Regions from separate parts of the Homo sapiens genome. Here regions 2 and 3 are each linked to region 1. Evidence: fine-mapped expression QTL. A gene starts in region 1. Each other region holds a variant in brackets. All regions are shown on one strand. Distances are between the middles of the regions. Region 1 holds the start of EXOSC10 (exosome component 10). Region 2 has its middle 2.9 kb from the start of MTOR. Region 3 overlaps MTOR (mechanistic target of rapamycin kinase).

The links.
Region 2: its variant is fine-mapped to the expression of EXOSC10 in whole blood (TOPMed, PIP above 0.99).
Region 3: its variant is fine-mapped to the expression of EXOSC10 in whole blood (TOPMed, PIP above 0.99).

The regions. Positions count from the first base shown.
Region 1 is chr1:11,098,775-11,101,535 of GRCh38, reverse strand. EXOSC10 (exosome component 10) reads left to right here and starts at 1,667. Exons shown (of 25, transcript NM_001001998.3): 1 at 1,667-1,815. The coding sequence starts at 1,705. EXOSC10-AS1 (EXOSC10 antisense RNA 1) reads right to left here and starts at 1,861. Exons shown (of 2, transcript NR_135062.1): 1 at 1,722-1,861. RefSeq lists enhancers at 1,378-1,938, 2,228-2,287, 1,939-2,501 and a silencer at 2,125-2,326.
Region 2 is chr1:11,264,112-11,266,872 of GRCh38, reverse strand. No RefSeq gene overlaps it. Among named protein-coding and RNA genes, the nearest start is that of MTOR, 2.9 kb to the right of the region's middle. The variant G/A (reference allele first, on the strand shown) is at 1,479.
Region 3 is chr1:11,173,381-11,176,141 of GRCh38, reverse strand. All of the region lies in intron 28 of MTOR (mechanistic target of rapamycin kinase), which reads left to right. Among named protein-coding and RNA genes, the nearest start is that of ANGPTL7, 15 kb to the left of the region's middle. The variant C/T (reference allele first, on the strand shown) is at 1,389.

The sequences.
Region 1 (2,761 bases):
TTCCTGCCTGTAATCCCAGTGAGGTGGGAGGACGGCTTCAGCCCAGGAGTTCGAGACCAGGTTGGTAAGATGCAGTCTAAAAAAAATAAGCCAGGCGCTGGTGGCGCACACCTGTAATCCCAGCACTTCGGGAGGCCAAAGCAGGTGGATCACTTGAGGTCAGGAGTTCAAGACCAGCCTGGCCAACATGGTGAAACCCCATCTCTACTAAAAATACAAAAAAAAAAAAAAAATTAGCCGGGCATTGTGGCACACGCCTGTAATCCCAGCTACTTGAACCTAGGAAGCGGAGGTTGCAGTGAGCTGAGATTGCACCACTGCACTCCAGCCTGGGCAGCAGAGTGAGACTCTGTCTCAAAAAAAAAAAATAAACAGGGCAGGCACGGTGGCTCCGCCTGTAATCCCAGCACTCTGGGAGGTCGAGGCGGGAGGATCACAAGGTGAGGAGTTCGAGACCAGCCTGGCCAATATGGTGAAACCCCGTTTCTACTAAAAATACGAAAAAAATTAGCCGAGCGTGGTGGTGCACGCCTGTAATCCCAGCTACTCGGGAGGCTGAGGCAAGAGAATTCGTTGAACCCGGGAGGCGGGAGGTTGCAGTGAGCCAAGATTGCGTCACTGCACTCCAGCCTGGGCAACAGAGTGAGACTCCATCTCAAAAAAAATAAAAATAAAAATAGGCTGCACGCTGATGACTCGTATCTGTAATCCCAGCACTTTGGGAGAGCAAGAGTGAAACTTTGTCCCAAAAACATGGTTTTTTTTGTTTGTTTGTGACAAGGTCTCACTCTGTTGCCCAGGCTGGAATGCAGTGGTTCGATCTCGGCTCACTGTAACCTCCACCTCCCGGGCTCAAGCCTCAGCCTCCCGAGTAGCTGGGATTACAGGCATGTGCCACCACGCCCGACTAATTTTTGTGTTTTTAGTATAGACAGAGTTTCACCATGTTGGCCAGGCTGGTCTCCAACTCCCGACCTCAGGTGATCCACCCGCCTCGGCCTCCTAAAGTGCTGGGATTACAGGTGTGAGTCACGGCGCCCAGCCTCAAAAACATAACCTTAAAAAGAAATTTTTGAGACAGGGTTTCATCCTGTCACCCCGGCTGGAGTGCAGTGGAGCCTCCACCTCCTCGGCTCAAGCAACCATCCCACCTCAGCCTCCCGAGCAGCTGGGACTACAGATGCGCACCACCACTCCCGGTAATCCCGGTTTGTTTGTTTTTTAAATTTTTAAATAAACACGAGGATAAGCGGGGATCGTGGCCCTCGCCTGGGGTCCCTGCTACTTCGCAGGCTAAGGTGGGAGGATCTCTTGAGCCCAAGAGTTCGAAACCAGATTGGGCAAACCTCGTGTCAAAAATATATGTGATAGTCAGGTCCTCCAGGCCGCACCCTAGATCACAGGGTTGTTGGGATGATACAATATGAGGTAAAAGAACGTGAAATTCACACCAGAGCGCTCGAAAGTGCCACCCTAATCGCAGGCTTCCCAACCTAATCGCAGGCTTCCCAACCTAATCGCAGGTGCCCCACCCTAAACGCAGGCTTCCCAACCTAATCGCAGGCGCCCCACCCCAATCGCAGGCTCCCCACACTATAATCAGACGCCCCGCCCGCCGCTTCGACCTGGCGCATGCGTGGTGCGCACGCGTCCCGTCTCCTCGGCCGACAAGCTCTCGCGAGACGAGCCGTGCAGGCTGAAAAAATGGCGCCACCCAGTACCCGGGAGCCCAGGGTCCTGTCGGCGACCAGCGCAACCAAATCCGACGGAGAGATGGTGCTGCCAGGCTTCCCGGACGCCGACAGCTTTGTGAAGGTGAGTTCGCGGGGCCTCGGGGGTACCAGGAGTCGCCCGCGGCCGCCGGAAGCCGACTGGGCCCTCTGGGCAGCCAATGCCCGCCCGCCGTAGTGGAGCCCGAGCGAGGGTCGCGGGGCCCCTGTCCGCGCTGGGCGCAGACTCTCCTGCACCCTCCGGGGATGGGGCCTCGGAAACGGACACTGAGGGGCGTCCCGCTTGCGAGCCTAAGTCCATGGAGGCCCAAATGTGGAAAGCCGTCTCGCATCCTGGGAAAGGCTTCCTTGCCACCCAGACGTCCCTAGCCCTTGCGACGTCGCGCTCGCCACGCCCTAGCCACCCGACCAGCTCTCCGCAGGGGCTCGGCTTCTTCGCGCTCCCCACACTTGCCTGGAGTTGTCTCCTCCCGCGGCCAGTATGGCCCTTCTCTTCCTCTGTTTCTGAAGTCCAGTCCTACATAATTTTTAACCCTGAGTTAAATGTCACCTGTTAAAGCCCCATTGCACGTTTATTAGTAACTCCTGGAAGGTATACAGGGCGTTCACTTAAGATCTTTGTATAACTTAGCTTAAATATGAGCAAACGTACAACTAGGCTTAAGGTGTGCATAGCTCTTACAAAGCAATGAAACTAAAATAATTTGTAAATTAACCCTATAAATTTACAGAAATTCCACTAACGTTGTATCTTATCTAATTTGCTGTTAGCTAATGCTATTGATTCATTAACATGGCTCTCAATAGTTCCTGGACCACTAACTGTGGTCCTGGTTGTGTGGCGGTCATGCTCATAAGCTACCATGTTCCCCTCCGTGACTTAATTTCCCACCTCCTTTCTCTGCTTTTTTCTTGGGAAATGTTTATTCACAAAACTCACAATGACGTTTTAGGCCTTCACATGATCAGCCATCATTTATGTCACTTCACGGCTTTTTTTCGTTACCTCACAACAGTTAAAATAGAGAACC
Region 2 (2,761 bases), 170 kb before region 1:
AGTAAACACACTGCACATGCGCCCCTACCCAAGTGCTGACAGGCCACCATGCATGTGGACAGCCCACCCCAAGGGAAGAATCAGGGGAGAAGGGATGCAAGACCCTGGAAGTATGCCAACCCCGAGTCAAGGTCAAACAGCGCACTTGATCTCTCAGGTCAACTGCTTGGTTCTCTTCCAAGTGTCCTTTACTTCCTTTCATTCCTGCTCTAAAGCTCTTTAATAAACTTCGCTCCTGTTCTAAAACTTGCCTCAGTCTCTCACTCTGCCTTATGCCCCTCAGTTGAATTCTTTCTTCTGAGGAGGCAAGAACTGAGCTTGCTGCAGACCATGTAAATTCAGCGCTGGTAACACTCCCATCTCCTCAGTTGGCTGCCCTGCGATCACTAAACTCTTTCTCTGCTGCAGACTCTGCTGTCTCATTGCATTGGTCAACTGTTGCTGTGCAGCAGGCATAGAATCCTGTTGGAACTACAAGAGAAAGATCTACAAGATGCAGTAAAATTTTAAAAATGCAAAATAGTGCGTATAGTATAACAAAAGGGGAAAATAAAAATATATGTATGGGCTGGGCATGGTGGCTCGTGCCTGTAATCCTAGCATTTTGGGAGGCTGAGGCAAGCGGATCAACTGAGGTCAGGAGTTTGAGACCAGCTTGGCCAATGTGGTGAAACCTTGTCTCTACTAAAAATAAAAAAATTAGCCACGCATGATGGCACAGACATGTAATCCCAGCTATTGGGGAAGCTGAGGCAGGAGAATCACTTTAACCTGGGAGGCAGAGGTTGCAGTGAGCCAAGATCATGCCACTGCACTCCAGCCTGGGCGACAGAGTGAGACTCTGTCTCAAAAAAAAAAAAAAAAAAAAAAAGGAATATACATACGTATATATTTGCTTGTTTTTGCAGACAGAAAATCTAGGGATGCATAAGAAACTGAGAAAATACATAGTCAAGGGGCAAGGGTGGAGCAAGACTTTTCATGATAAATGTAACTTGTTTATTTTGAGATTTGAATAGCGACTATATTGCATATTAGAAGCTTTTAATGATAAAAATATAGATGTTGGGCCAGGCACAATGGCTCACGCCTGTAATCCCAGCACTTTGGGAGGCTGAAGCAGGCGGATCACCTGAGGTCAGGAGTTCAAGACCAGCCTGGCCAACATGGCGAAACCCTGTCTCTACTAAAAATACAAAAATTAGCTGGGTGTGGTGGCAGGTGCCTGTAATCCCAGCTACTCAGGAGGCTGAGGCACGAGAATCACTTGAACCCAGGAGGCGGTGGTTGTAGTGAGCCGAGATTGCGCCACTGCACTCCTGCCTGGGTACCAGAACGAGACTCCATCTAAAAAAAAAAAAAAAAAAAAAAATTGAACATCAGTGAAAATGTAAAATTTAGAGGAATACTTATCTCACAGGAGCAATGAAAAGAGGCTAAATCTAAAGTAGCCATTATTACTCGAGAGGCTGAGGCAA[G/A]AGAATCGCTTAAACCTGGGAGGCAGAGGTTGCAGTGAGGTGAGATGGCTCCCCTGCACTCCAGCCTGGGTGACAGAGTAAGATTCTGTCTCAAAAAAAAGGAGCAATTATATATATATATATATTTATATATATATATATATAATTTTTTTTTTTTGAGACAGTGTCTCACTCTGTCAACTCAGGATGGAATGCAGTGGTGCAGTGGTGAGATCACAGCTCACTGCAGCCTTGACCTCCTGGGCTCAAGTGATCCTCCCACCTCAACCTCTTAAGTAGCTGGGACCACAGGTGCATGCCACCACACCAACTAATTTTTTGCATTTTTTGTAGAGATGAGGTTTCACCATGTTGCCCAGGTGGGCTCAAACAATCCACCTGCCTCAGCCTCCCAAAGTGTTGGGTCACTGTGCCTGGCCAATATCATAGATATTAACAATAACAACAACAACAACAAAAACCCTGCCAAACAAAGCATTTTGTTAGCCACGGAATATTGACATCTTTATTTGTTTATTTATTTATTTATTTGAGATGGAGTCTCACTATGTTGCCCAGGCTGGTCTCAAATGCCTGGGCTCATGCAATCTTCCTGCTTTGGCCTCCCAAAGTGCTGGGATTACAGGTGTGAGCCACCGCACCCAGCCCAACTATCTTTAATTTGGCAGTTTAGACCTTCTGAAAACTCATTTCTTCTACCTTCACTTGTTTTTATTACATAAGTAATTGATAATGTATAAAGAAAAAAAGTGTGTCTTTCCCAAATTACATCTTAGTTGTGCACATTTCCCCCATGTAAACAGAGACATATAAGAAATGCATAAATATTTTTGTAAATGGTTGTATTATACTTACATTGTTGCACAACTTGTAATTTTTAAACTAGTTGTGAACCTTTTCCTTCTTAGCAAATATTCATCTAATTACCACTATTTATTGTTATTATTATTATTTGAGACAGGATCTTTCTCTGCTGCCCAGGCTGCAGTGCAGTGGAGATCACAGATGACTGCAACCTTGAAGTCATAGACTCAAGTGATTCTCGTGCCTCAGCCTTCCAAGTAGCTGGGACTACAGGCATGTGCTACCACACACAGCTAATTTTTAAATTTCTTTTGTAGAGACAAGGGTCTCACTATGTTGCTCAGGCTGGTCTGGAACTCCTGGCCTCAAGCAATCCTGCCTCGGCCTCCCAAAGTGCTGGGATTCCAGGGATGAGCCACCATGCTAGGCTCTAAATTATAATTATTAATGGCTATGTATTTTTCTTATTATGAATGCAT
Region 3 (2,761 bases), 75 kb before region 1:
ACTGCTTTGCTGTGGGTCAGCATTAAGTCCTTGAGCAGTTAATGACCCACTATTTCAGTCAATCTCATCCTCCTCCAATAAAAGGCAGTGAGGGGGCTGGGCACAGTGGCTCATGCCTGTAATCCCAGCACTTTGGGAGGCTGAGGCGGTTAGATCATTTGAGGTCAGGAGTTCAAGACCAGCCTGGCCAACATGGTGAAAACACATCTCTACTACTAAAAATAGAAAAATTAGCTGGGCAGTAGTGGCGCGCACCTGTAATCCCAGCTACTGGAGAGACTGAGGCATGAGAATCCTTGAGCCTGGGAGGCAGAGGTTGCGGTGAGCCGAGATTGCGCCACTGCACTCCAGTCTGGGTGACAGAGTGAGACCCTGTCTCAAAAAAAAAAAAAAAACCTGCTAGGGAGAGCCTGAGAGGAAAGGGCTATGGGGAGGCAGCAGGCGCCACTGCCCACGTGAGCTGCTCTACCGTCACTCCTGACAGGGCCTTTGCCGGGGGAAGTGTCTGCACAGCTGAACCACCCGCTGCTCAGCTCGCATGCTTGCCCTGCCTTGGGAACAAGGTTTCTGGATAGTGGGGATAAGATGTTCAGCGTAATGGTGTGATGTTTGCTATAGGAAGGCAGCAAGGCAATTTCTTAGTATTAGTTCTGCTCAGCTCTAGAAAATGTTTTCCTTGATTGCCAAGAACTTTCCCAGCTCAATTCAAAACTCGAATTTGATGAAAGGAGGCTCTGCAATTCAGCCTCCTTTAATCAGAATTCAATCTTGGGCTGGGGTGGGGAGAGTGGAGAATGAATGAGAATGAATATGTCTGTACAGCGGCCTCCTTCTGCCCCTGATACCCAGATTCACCATGTTCTCCTTTCCGCCTGTCTTCGTTGTCTTCCTAACGCCAGGTTCAGTTTGTGGGCTCTGGATTCTATTATGCGGATAGGCAGTTTCTGTTTGTTCTACAGATTCACAACTGTATGATAGCAACTGGATGTTATAACTGGAAACTGGAGTAGAATACCAACATACCCCACACCCATGTTAGGGAGGCAGTGGGAATCACTAGTTTAGAAAATTCTTGGGACTCAGTTCTCTTTTCCTTTTGGCCTCAGTAGGCGTCAAGAGGAGATGGGAAATCTGATTGACCTGTCATTTCTGCACACTGTTATAGGCACGTTGCTGACAAGCCTCAGTTTCTTTAAACTTGTTTGTGTTCAGATCTTTTCCACCAGACCAGCATCAGCAGGGTCTGGTTTGTGGTGTTACGTACTCCTCTTCTGTTGGGCTGGAGCTTTGAACAGTTTGCCCTTTATAAGCCTGCAGCATTAATAGGGAAAGACTGAGGGGCACCCAAGGGGGTGTTTATAGAATGGGCTTTATAAAACTCCCAGCTG[C/T]CCCGTAAAACAAGAGTTCCTCGCTAAGGGGGCTTTTGAGCAAAGGTGATTTCTTCACAGGAGCCGAACATACAGTCTCTGCCTTCAGTCTCATAAAAACCACATCTCATTAGAAAAGGGACATAATTCAAAGGACGGCTTTGTATCACCCAGGTAGGCAGGAGATCTGGGACTTAGTGGCTGTGAACTCCTGCATTTTCACAGAGACTTGCTTGTCCTGCACTTTGCAGCCTGAACTATAAGCCTGGCTGTCTTTGAAAAGCCTGCTGTGATGGCATGCTGACTTGTCACGTGGAAGGCTGGAGGCATATTAGTAGCTTCTGGAAGGAAATAAAAAATGTGAGATGGGAGCTTGGGAGTAAGAGAGGAATGTTAGTGAGGAAGTTAAAATGAAGGCACAGGAGGGCTCCCTTCTCCTGCACAATGAGTTCTAGAGAGAGAGTTAATGGAAACATCCCACCCATTGCTCACACTCGTTCATTTTACAGCTAATTCCTGGGTGCCTACTGATGCCAAGAGGAGAAAGCTAAGACACCGCCTGTCCCTCCCATTGCAGAGCTTGCAGTATACCCTTCATTATTACTTAAGATACTTTTTTCTCTTTACCTCAACATGGCACTAAAGATACTTTTCCGTGGTAACATTTTTAAGAGAAAGTCACCTTTTAAGGGAAGGCAATAGCCTGTGACCTACTGGGCTGTGTTTTCTTCATATATAAAATGAGAATATTAATAATAGTTTCACAGGGTCGAAATAATACATAGAAACAATAAGCGCAGTGCCTGGCACATATGGTGAGCTCTCTTCTTATTTTGGTATCTTCTTCTTGTATCTTCTTCTTGTTGCCTCCCGTGATGGAGTGCCAGAAGGCATGGAGGAAGAAGAAAAAATTAAGATCCCAAACAAGATAACAGACTCTCTTGATCACCAGGATTAATAAGCCTGCTGACTTCACTGTCCAGAGCATCCACATCCATAATTAGTATTCTCCAGCAGCTTTAGAGGCGTGCATGGGAACTCCTCAGAAGGAAATAAGAGAAATGTAGCTTAGGGAGAAAGTCCTGTAGGAAATTAAAGTGAAAAAGGGGGAAGAGGAAATAAATACACAGGCTGATAGCAGCTGGTTCACTAAAAATCTCTTTATTCTTTGAACAATCAAGAGAGTAGGTGTGGCTGGGCGTGGTGGCTCATGCCTGTAATCCTAACAATTTGGGAGGCTGAGACAGGCAGATCACTTGAGCTCAGGAGTTCGAGACCAGCCTGGGCAACACGGCAAAACTTCATTTCTACTAAAAATACAAAAAAAAAATAATAATGTGTGTGGTGGTGTAGGCCTTTGAGAGGCTGAGGTGGGAGGATTGCGTGAGTCCAGG